Regions from separate parts of the Homo sapiens genome. Here region 2 is linked to region 1. Evidence: fine-mapped expression QTL. Tissue or cell type: stomach. Region 1 holds a variant in brackets; the other region holds the start of a gene. All regions are shown on one strand. Distances are between the middles of the regions.

Region 1 (5,145 bases):
GCCTCCTGCTGCTTTTCCATTAACAAACTTTTTTATCCTTGCTAATCTGATATATTTTTTAAAAATAGTTCTCATTGTGGCTTAAAAAAATCATTTAATCCAGGCCAGGTGCGGTGGCTCATGCCTATAATCCCAGTACTTTGGGAGGCCGAGGCAGGCGGATCGCTAGAGGTCAGGAGTTCAAGACCAGCCTGCCCAGCACAGTGAAACCCCATCTCTACTAACAATACGAAAATTAGCAGGGCGTGGTGGCACATGCCTGTAATCTCAGCTACTTGGGAGGCTGAGGCAGGAGAATCGCTTGTACCTGGAGGTGGAGGTTGCAATGAGCCGATAATGCTACTGCACTCCTGCCTGGGCAACAGGGCGAGACTCTGTCTCAAAAAAATAAAAATAAATAAATAATTAAATAATTATTTAATCCATATATATTTCTGTTTACATCTCTAAAAGATAAGGGCTTTAAGGCCAGGCGCGGTGGCTCACGCCTGTAATCCCAGCACTTTGGGAGGCCGAGGCGGGTGGATCACAAGGTCAGGAGATCGAGACCATCCTGGCTAACATGGTGAAACCCCGTCTCTACTAAAAATACAAAAAAATTAGACGGGCGTGGTGGTGGGTGCCTGTAGTCCCAGCTACTCGGGAGGCTGAGGCAGGAGAATAGCGTGAACCTGGGAGGCGGAGTTTGCAGTGAGCCGAGATCGCGCCACTGCACTCTAGCCTGGGAGACAGAGCGAGACTCCGACTCAAAAAATAAATAAATAAATAAATAAATAAATAAAAGATAAGGGCTTTAAAAATATAACTACAATGCCATTATCACACTATTAAAAATTAACAAGAGGGTTTCAATTCCAGGTAAGATGGAGTAAGCAAGTTCCACCTGCCTCTCCTGTGGAATGCAGCTATAAAATCTGGACGCAACTAATGGAGCAGATACTTGAGGTTTCTGAGCAGGAAATAGCAGCAGGTGGATTAGGAAAGACCAGTGATATGGTTTGGCTGTGTCCCCACCCAAATCTCATCTTGAATTGTAGCTCCCATAATTCCCACGTGTTGTGGGAGGGACCTGGTGGGAGATAATTGAATCACGGGGGCGGTTCCTCCCATACTGTTCTCATGGTAACTAGTAAGTCTCACGAGATCTAACGGTTTTATAAAAGGGGGAAACCACTTTTGCTTGGTTCTCATTTTCTCTCTTGCCTGTCACCATGTAAGACATGTCTTTGCCTTCTGCCACGATTGTGAGGCCTCCCCAGCCATGTGGAACTGTGAGTCCATTAAACCTCTTTTTCTTTATAAATTACCCAGTCTCAGATATGTCTTTATCAGCAGTGTGAAAATGGACTAATACAACCAGAATTCAAAGTACCACTGAATGGCTATGAGTTACCCATTGGTTGTCCCCAGATGTCTCTCGGTCTGGACAAGCTATGACAAGACATAGACAAGCTGATTCTAAAATGCATATGGAAAAGCAAAGACACTATAATACTCTAAACAATTTTCAAACAGAAAAATAAAGTTAAATCGTACTCCCCACTTTTAAGCCTTCCTATAAGCAGTGTAGTTTGGGTAAAGGGATATATACACAGGTCATTTGAACAATAGGATCCAGCAGTAGGCCACACACATACAGCTAACTGATTTCTGACAAGGTGCAAAAACAAGTCAACAGAGAGAAGAATAGTCTTTTCAATGAAGGGCGCTGGAACAATTGGACATTCATATACCAAAAAAAGAGGTAATCTCAACTTAAACCACAAGCTTTATACAAAAATTGATATAAATGGGTCATAGGTCTAAATGTAAAAAATATAACATTATAAAATTTTTAGGTGAAAATATCTAAAATCCTTGTGACCTGGGAAAAGAGTTCTTAGATATAATACCAAAGCACAATCCATAGAACCAAAACCATGCTAAAGCTATAAAACTCCCAGAAGAAAACATCAGAAAAAAATCTTTGTGATCTTGGATTTGGTGATGGTTTCTGAAATGTGACACCAAAAGGACAAGCAGCAAAAGAAAAATTAAATTGAACTGCATCAAAATTAAAACTTGTGTACATCAAAGGACACTCTCAAGAGAGTGAAAAGAGAATCCGTGGAAGAAAATGCTTGCAAATTATATATCTGATAAGAGTTTAATATCCAGAATATATAAGGAACTCCTACAACTCAGCAACATCAAACAACTCAATTGAAGAATAGAC[A/G]ACTTTAATAGACATTTTCCCAAAGAAAACATACAAATGGCCAAGAAGCACACAAAAAGATGCCCGCCATCACTAATCATTAGGGAAACAGATCAAAATCCCACTGAGATACCACTTTACACCCATCAGGATGGTTACTATCAAAGAAACATAAAATAACCAGTGTTGGCACAGCTGTGGGAAAATTGGAACCTGTGCACTGTTGGTGGGATTGTAAAATGGTATAGCTGCTGTGGAAAACAGAATGGTGGTTCCTCAAAAAACTAAAAACAGAATTCCCATACATCATAGCTCACTGTGTGTTGCTATAGCAGAATACCTAAGACAGGTGTTGCGGGAATTCAGGGACCCCGAACGGAGGGACCAGCTGGAGCTGCGATAGAGGAACATAAATTGTGAAGATTTCATGGACATTTATCACTTCCCAAATAATACTCTTATAATTTCTTACACCTGTCTTACTTTAATCTCTTAATCCTGTTATCTTCGTAAACTGGGAAAGTACGTCACCTCAGGACCCTGTGATAATTGTGTTAACTGTACAAATTGATTGTAAAATGTGTGTTTGAACAATATGAAATCAGTGCACCTTGAAAAAACAGAATAACAGCGATTTTAGGGAACAAGGGAAGACAACCATAAGGCCTGACTGCCTGCGGGGTCGGGCAAAAAGAGCCATATTTTTCTTCTTGCAGACAGCCTATAAACAGATGTGCAAGTAGGGAAGATATCGCTAAATTCTTTTCCTAGCAAGGAATATTGATATTAATACTCTGGGAAAAGAATTGCATTCCTGGGGGGAGGTCTATAAACGGCCGCTCTGAGAATGTCTGTCCTATGCGGTTGAGATAAGGACTGAGATACGCCCTGGTCTCCTGCAGTACCCTCAGGTTTACTAGGGTAGAGAAAAACCCCACCCTGGTAAATTTGAGGTCAGACCGGTTCTCTGCTCTCGAACCCTGTTTTCTGTTGTTTAAGACGTTTATCAAGATAATACGTGCACCGCTGAACATGGACCCTTATCAGTAGTTCTGTTTTGCCTTGTCCCGTTTCCTCAGAAGCATGCGATCTTTGTTCTGCCTTTTGCCCTTTGAAGCATGTGATCTTTGTTCCTACTCCCTGTTCATACCCCCCCGCCCCGCCTTTTGAAATCCTTAATAAAACCTGCTGGTTTTGTGGCTCAGGCAGGCATCACGGTCCTACCGATATGTGATGTCACCCCCGGCGGCCCAGCTGTAACATTCCTCTCTTTGTACTCTTTCTCTATTTCTCAGACCAGCCGACACTTATGGAAAATAGAACCTACGTTGAAATATTAGGAGCGGGTTCCCCTGATAACTGGGTAATTGATAAGCAATAGATGTTTATTTGACTCATGGTTCTGGAGGCTGAGAGGTCCAAGGGCAGGGCACCAGCATCTGGTGAGGGCCTTCCTGCGTCGTCTGTAGTGGAAGGTGGAAGGGCAAGAGAGAGAGACAGCGAAAGGGCACGAGAGCAAGAGGGGCCGTATTCACTTATAACAAAGCCACTTGTGAGCTAACTGACACACTCACGCGATAACAGCATGAAACCATTCATGGTGGCAGAGTCCTCGTGCCCTAAATGGCTCTTACTAGGCCCCACCTCCCGACACCACTGCATTTTGAGGATTAGGTTTTCAACACATGAACTTTGCTGCACACATTCAAACCGTAGCCCTGTATGATCCAGGAATCCCACTTCTGGGCATATACTCCCCACAAATTAAAAACAGGAGCTTAAAGAGATATTTGTTTTCTTTTCTTTTTCTTTTTTTTTCTTTTTTTTTTTTGAGACAGAGTCTTGCTCTGTCACCCAGGCTGGAGTGCAGTGGCGCGATCTCTGCTCACTGCAGCCTGTGCCTCCTGGGTTCAAGCAGTTGTCCTGCCTCAGCCTCCTGAATAGCTTGGACTACAGGTGCACACCACCATGCCCAGCTAATTTTTGTATTTTTAGTAGAGACAAGGTTTCACCATATTGGCCAGGATGGTCTTGATCTCCTGACCTCGTGATCCACCCACCTCAGCCGGAGTGCAGTGGCACCATCTCAGCTCACTGCAACGTCCGCCTCCTGGGTTCAAGCGATTCTTCTGCCTCAGCCTCCCGAGTAGCTGGGACTACAGGCGCGAGGCCACCATGCCCAGATAATTTTTGTATTTTTAATAGAGACATGGTGTCAACATACTGACCAGGCTGGTCTCAAACTCCTAGACCTTGTCATCCACCTGCCTCAGCCTCCCAAAGTGATGGGATTACAGGCGTGAGCCACCGTGCCCGGCCTTCTTTTCTTTCTTTCTTTTTTTTTTTTTAAGACGGAGTTTCACTCTTATTGCCCAGGCTGGAGTGCAATGGCACCATCTCGGCTCACTGAAACCTCCGCCTCCTGGGTAAAAGTGATTCTCCTGCCTCAGCCTCCCGAGTAGCTGGGATTACAGGCATGCGCTACCACGCTGGGCTAATTTTGAATTTTTGGTAGAGACAGGGTTTCTCCATGTTGATCAGGCTGGTCTCGACCTCCTGACCTCAGGTGATCCACCCACCTCGGCCTCCCAGAGTGCTGGGATTACAGGCCCAGCCTCTTATTTTTTAAATTAGAGATAAGGTCTCACTATGTTGCTCAGGTTGGTCTCAAACTCCTGGACTCAAGCAATACTCCTGCCTTGGCCTCCCAAAGTGCTGGGATTACAGGCATGAGACACTGCACCCGGCCCCTTTAAAGAGATATTTGTATTCCATGTTCATAGCAGCATTATGCGCAATAGCCAAGAGGTGGGGAAAAACCCGAAGTCCATCAACGAATGGATATATAAAATGTGGCCTATCCATGCACTGGAATATTATTAGCCTTAAAAGGACAGAATTCCTGACCACAACATGGATAAACCGAAAGGACTTTATGCTCAGTGAAATAA
Region 2 (5,145 bases), 940 kb before region 1:
ACTTTAATTACAGTACTTCAGACCAAGAGCCTGCAGTTGAGGAGGCCAGGGTCATGAATCAGCTGCCCCCCAAACTCCTTATCTCACCAACCCAAGCTGCTTACAACCCCTCCAGATATCCCAGGAGCCGGGGGGAATGTCATTCTTCAGGGCTGAGGGAACATCTTTGCACCCTGGGGTAGCAGATGGGACCACAGGGCATGTGGAATGTCTTAGTCTGTTTCACACTGCTATACCTGAGGTTGGGTTTGTTTTATTTATTTATTTATTTATTTAGAGACGGAGTCTCGCTCTGTCGCCCAGGCTGGAGTGCAGTGGTGCGATCTGGGCTCACTGCAAGCTCCGCCTCCCGGGTTCACACCATTCTCCTGCCTCAATCAGCCTCCCGAGTGAGGGGCTGGGACTACAGGTGCCCGCCACCACACCTGGCTAATTTTTTTGTTTCTTTTTTTTTTTCAGTAGAGATGGGGTTTCACCGTGTTAGCCAAGATGGTCTCGATCTGACCTCGTGATCCGCCCGCCTCGGCCTCCCAAAGTGCTGGGATTACAGGCGTGAGCCACTGCGCCCAGCCAAGGTGGGGGAATTTATTTTTTTAAAAAAGCAAAACAGGTTTATTTGGCTCAAAATTCTGGTGGAAATTTCAAGATTGGGCAGCTGCACCTGGTGAGGGCCTCATGCTACTTCAACTCAAGGCAGCAAGTAGAAGGGGAGAGGCATGCACAAAGAGATTACGTGGCCATATGGCGAGAGAGGAAGCAAGAGACAACCGCAGGAAGGCTGACTCTCTAACCAGCTCTCATGGGAACTCACCCCTCCACAAAGGACACTAACCTATCCATGAGGGATCCACCCCTATTACCCAAACTCCTCCTACTAGGCACCACCTCCTAACACTGCCTCATTGAGGCTCAAATTTCAATACCATTTTGGGCAGGGGCAGACCACATGCAAATCACAGCATGGGGTAATAGTGGGGGCAGGTTGACACAGGGCTGCTGCCTACCCAGCACCAGCTGTCTCTTGGCCCCTTCCAGATCCTGGCAATCTGGCTACAGGCATGGGCCCAGCCTTGGACACAGATGTGGCCACAGGAAGCTGTTAGCTCTCCAGATCTGATCAGCCTGGGAGAGCGGCACAACAAAGGCTCCCAAAGGAGAGTCGGGATCCTCAGCTAGCCTCAGCTCTGCTACCCACCCATATGTGCCCAGAACAGGAAAGATACGTGTTTCTTACTCCTCCGGGACTCCTAGGTGAAGCTGAGACCAGGCTCTTCTTGAGTCCTCTCAGCTATGGTGCAACCACCAGCCTAGCAAGGAATCAGAAACATCTTCCGGAAGAGTCAGCACCATAGAGGGTGCTGAATGGGCAATGAAGCATCCCGGAGATGAAACATCTGGGCAGTGAGGCATCCCACAGGTGTTGGGCTATGCAGTCACTCCCTTTCTCAGACCGAGGCAAGTACATAAGCACTCTGGGCCCCTAATCAGGGGCCTGGGGCCAGGTGGGATGAAAACAGCAGTGTCCTGCCACCTGAACAACTGCTACTCACGCAGGCCCCACCTGGCCTCTCAGAGGGAGGAACCTGGGACTCCTGAACCAGATTCAGTTTCTCCTTCAACAGCCGGGACTTTTCGCTCCTGACTGCAGAAAAACAGCTTCAATGTGACCATCCTTGATAGTCCGAGGCTGAGTAAAATGGCCTGAGGAGGCAAAATCTGAAAAGCTCTATTAGGTGGCAAACTGCTGTCACTAGAAGAGTTGAGGCCCCCTTCTCCTCCCCTGCCTGACCGCCTTCATTCCTGGGAATGGAACAGGTTCTTGGGGCAAGGGTGAATCCTCGAGCAGGTCCCAGGATCACTATCCTCACCTCCCCGCGGCACTGAATGGCTATAGCTGTAAATGTGCGTCCACGGGGTCACTGTCCAGCCACCAGGACCAGGTGCCTGGCCATCTGGGGAATCGGAAAACGCTCAGCGGGATGCTCTGGCCACCTCCCCTGCCCCCAGTTAAGATGTAGAGCGTTCAACCTAAAATGCCTAGAAACAAAGCCCAGGCCCGGGAAGGTCGAACGAGTGCGACGCCGCTCCCTCAAGCTCTTCCCTCGGAGCCGTCTCATTTCCCAAAACTCCCAAACACATCACAGAGAGAGGTGTTGAGCCAGGTGGTCACTCCCTTTTCCAGAACCACAGCAAGAAGTTGAGCCTGCTGGGCTCCTAACGAAGGCCCTGGGGCCCGGTGGGATGAAAAGCCCTATTAGGTAGCAAACAGCTGTCACTAGAGGGGTTGAGGCCCCCTTCTCCCCTGCCTGACGACGACGGCGGCAGGAACTCGACCGGCGCCGGACAGCTCGCAACTTGCCTTACCAAGCGTAAATCTCGGTTCCTCCCAACTACCCGCGGCCACGGCCTCCGCAGCAGAGCGCCGGAAGCAGAGACGCGTTTCGGGAGGAAGGTGCATGCTGGGAGCGGCGGCGCATGCTGGGAGCTGTAGTCTGCGACGCAACTCGGCCGAGGTGGCTCCCTGGTCCCTGAAGCTCCCAGAGCCCGCGTGTTCAGGCGGTCCCGACACCCCGGCCCGAGCCTCACCGGCTGGAGGACTGAACGCCTGCCGGCCCTCCGGGTATGAGCGGAGGCCGGGATAGCCCTGGGCTCCGCCGCCCCCGGAAGGAAAAAATACAGTGCGGTCCGCCGCCCGACCACGAAAGAGCGGAGCTCGGGAGCCCCGCCCCCTGGGCCTCCGACGTCCGTGGCGCTTTCCGTCGCGCGAGTGCGATTGGGCCGCCTGTCACGTGACCCGAGACCCCACGCCCGGTTGGCTGCCGCCTGGTTACCAATGGGAGACTAGCGGGCCGGCGTACTGGCCTGGTCCAGCACCTGCGGGGCCCTCGGGCTTGGAGGGCTGGGCCGGGCGGGGAACGGGCGGGGCGGGCCGGAGGCGGCGGCGGCTGACTCGCCTTCTCTCCGGGGCTGCGACCCCGAGGCAACCGGCTGCAGATGGGAGCCCGCGGAGCCGAGGATGCGGGCGGGCCGGGGCGCGACGCCGGCGAGGGAGCTGTTCCGGGACGCCGCCTTCCCCGCCGCGGACTCCTCGCTCTTCTGCGACTTGTCTACGCCGCTGGCCCAGTTCCGCGAGGACATCACGTGGAGGCGGCCCCAGGTGGGGCCGTGTGGGGTGCGGTGGGCGCCGTTTCTGGTTTCTGAGATCTCCGCTCCTCGCAGGGAGCGGGGCGGGGTGGGCGGCCAGGGTAGCTCCGAACGCAGGGTCCGCCGTTGTTCTCCTCAGAAGTGGGCGCCCGGCCCCCTCTTTTCGTACCTCCTTCATACCCCCGCCCAGAACGAGCAGGACTCGGCGCTACCCTAAGGACGCTAAACTAGGTCGTGGCCTCCGCCTGCGAGAGCTCCAATCCAGGAGGCTCAGAGCGCTGCGAGAGGCGTTTTAACAGAGCCCCAAACCCCGCCCCACCTGTTTGCTTTCGCCCTGAAGAGCGTTTGTGTCTGCTCCTCCCGCAGAGAGGGCCGCTCGTGCCCCTCTGAAGTGGCTAGGCCGAGCCCACAAAGCAAAGCGTGATAGAATTTCAGTTTTGGATTTTGTGCACCTGCCTTTCCAGTTGTAACACCTAGAAATGGCACCTCCAAGGGATGCCCTGGCCGAGTGCTGTGTTCATATTTTTAGAAATGGTTTATCTGCTGAATAAGACTGCCCAGGGAGCAACCTTGCCCTAAGTGGATGCGGTCTTAGCGGAGACAACTGATGGCCGCCAGTCTTCGAACAGAGCTGGAACTTCTGGGCTCTCGTGACTGAGATGGCTTTGACAGGCCACCTGGTTTCCTTGGACAACACTGAAGGGCCTGGGAGGAGGCAAGGGTCAGACCATGTAGAGCCTTGTCATTGGAATTTGGGTTTTATTTTGTTAAAAGATTGATTTTAGGTGCAGCTGGAGGCCACTAGAGGGTTTTGGTAGAGGAGTGGTTCTCTTGGATGTGTGTTTTTACAAGCTCACTCTTGCTGCTGGGTGGGAAGTGGGTTGTCGGGGCAAGAATGCAAGGGTCCATTGTAGTGGTCCTGGAGAAAGATGAAGGGGCTCAGATTAGCTTGACGACTGTTAGGATGTGGGTTTGGAGTAGATTGGTTTGAGACGTACCTTGCAGGGGGGATCGAGAGGCCATAGTGACTGATTGAAATAGAGGGTGAGGATAGTGGAGGGATCAACATGCCTTCTGGGTTTCTGGCCTGAACAGGTGGGTGGATGGTGGTCCTGGGACAGAGCCTGGGGGTGACCTAGAGTTGGGCTTTGCTCTCACGTCTTCAGGTGGAGCTGTCCTGGAGGCAGGTGGATCTGTCCTGGAGGCAGGTGGATACGGAGCAGGGATAGGCTAGAGGCATTCTTCTGGGAGGCGGAGCATATTAGATGGTTTACAGTCCACAGCCTGGGAGAGTGTCTCGGGGGAGTATCAGTAAAGAAGAAGGGGGCCTTGGGGCTGAGCCTTGAGGAACCCTAACATTTCTTGGGGTCAGGCAGGTGCCCTGACAGATAGACTTGAGAAGCAGCAGGCAGTGAGGGAGAGGACACCCGGGGAGCATGCGGCCTCACAGAAGCTGAGTGGGGACCACCTCAGGGGCAGCAGATGGCTGTTCTGCTGTTGTGAATGCTGCTGAGTAGTTGGGGAAGAGAGTTGGGACCAAGAGAAGCCCAGTGGGTTTGATAACATAGAGGTGACAGCGACATTGATCGAGGCAGTTTAGGGGCCATGATTGGCTCAGAAGCTAGAGGAGCCTGTGTGGAGAGTGAATGGGAAGCAGGTAGTGGGCATGGCAGCTCTTTCAAGAGCTGTAATGAAGAGAAGCCTGAAGGAGACTATGGTGCTGAGAGATAATGTCTTAAAGAACATGGGGGTGGGATTCTGCCCGGGGAGCTGGAAGGGAAGGAGTTGTGAGAGGAGCCCAGGCTCTGAGGGCAGGAGAGAGGGTCAGGTCCAGAAGCAGGAGGCAAGGTCGAAGCTCAGAGGGGTGGGCAAGGGCAGTGTGGATGTTTTGAGTAGACGGGGAGAAAGGGGAAGGTATATGATAGTTAGGGGGTGTGGGAAATGGAGCCTGCTAGAGAAACAGATTTCCAGCAGGATGGAGGACACATTTGAGATTTACCA

What was found. PIP is the estimated chance that this variant, and not a neighbour inherited with it, causes the effect.
Region 2: it holds the start of CAPN10, and the variant in region 1 is fine-mapped to the expression of CAPN10 in stomach (GTEx, PIP 0.94).

The regions. Positions count from the first base shown.
Region 1 is chr2:241,522,957-241,528,101 of GRCh38, forward strand. No RefSeq gene overlaps it. Among named protein-coding and RNA genes, the nearest start is that of STK25, 17 kb to the left of the region's middle. The variant A/G (reference allele first, on the strand shown) is at 2,216.
Region 2 is chr2:240,583,896-240,589,040 of GRCh38, forward strand. It overlaps CAPN10 (calpain 10), which reads left to right and starts at 2,839. Exons shown (of 12, transcript NM_023083.4): 1 at 2,839-3,157. The coding sequence starts at 3,017. CAPN10-DT (CAPN10 divergent transcript) reads right to left here and starts at 2,421. Exons shown (of 1, transcript NR_103792.1): 1 at 1-2,421. RefSeq lists enhancers at 586-655, 1,026-1,395, 2,386-2,565, 2,617-2,911, 2,850-3,676 and a silencer at 2,876-3,105.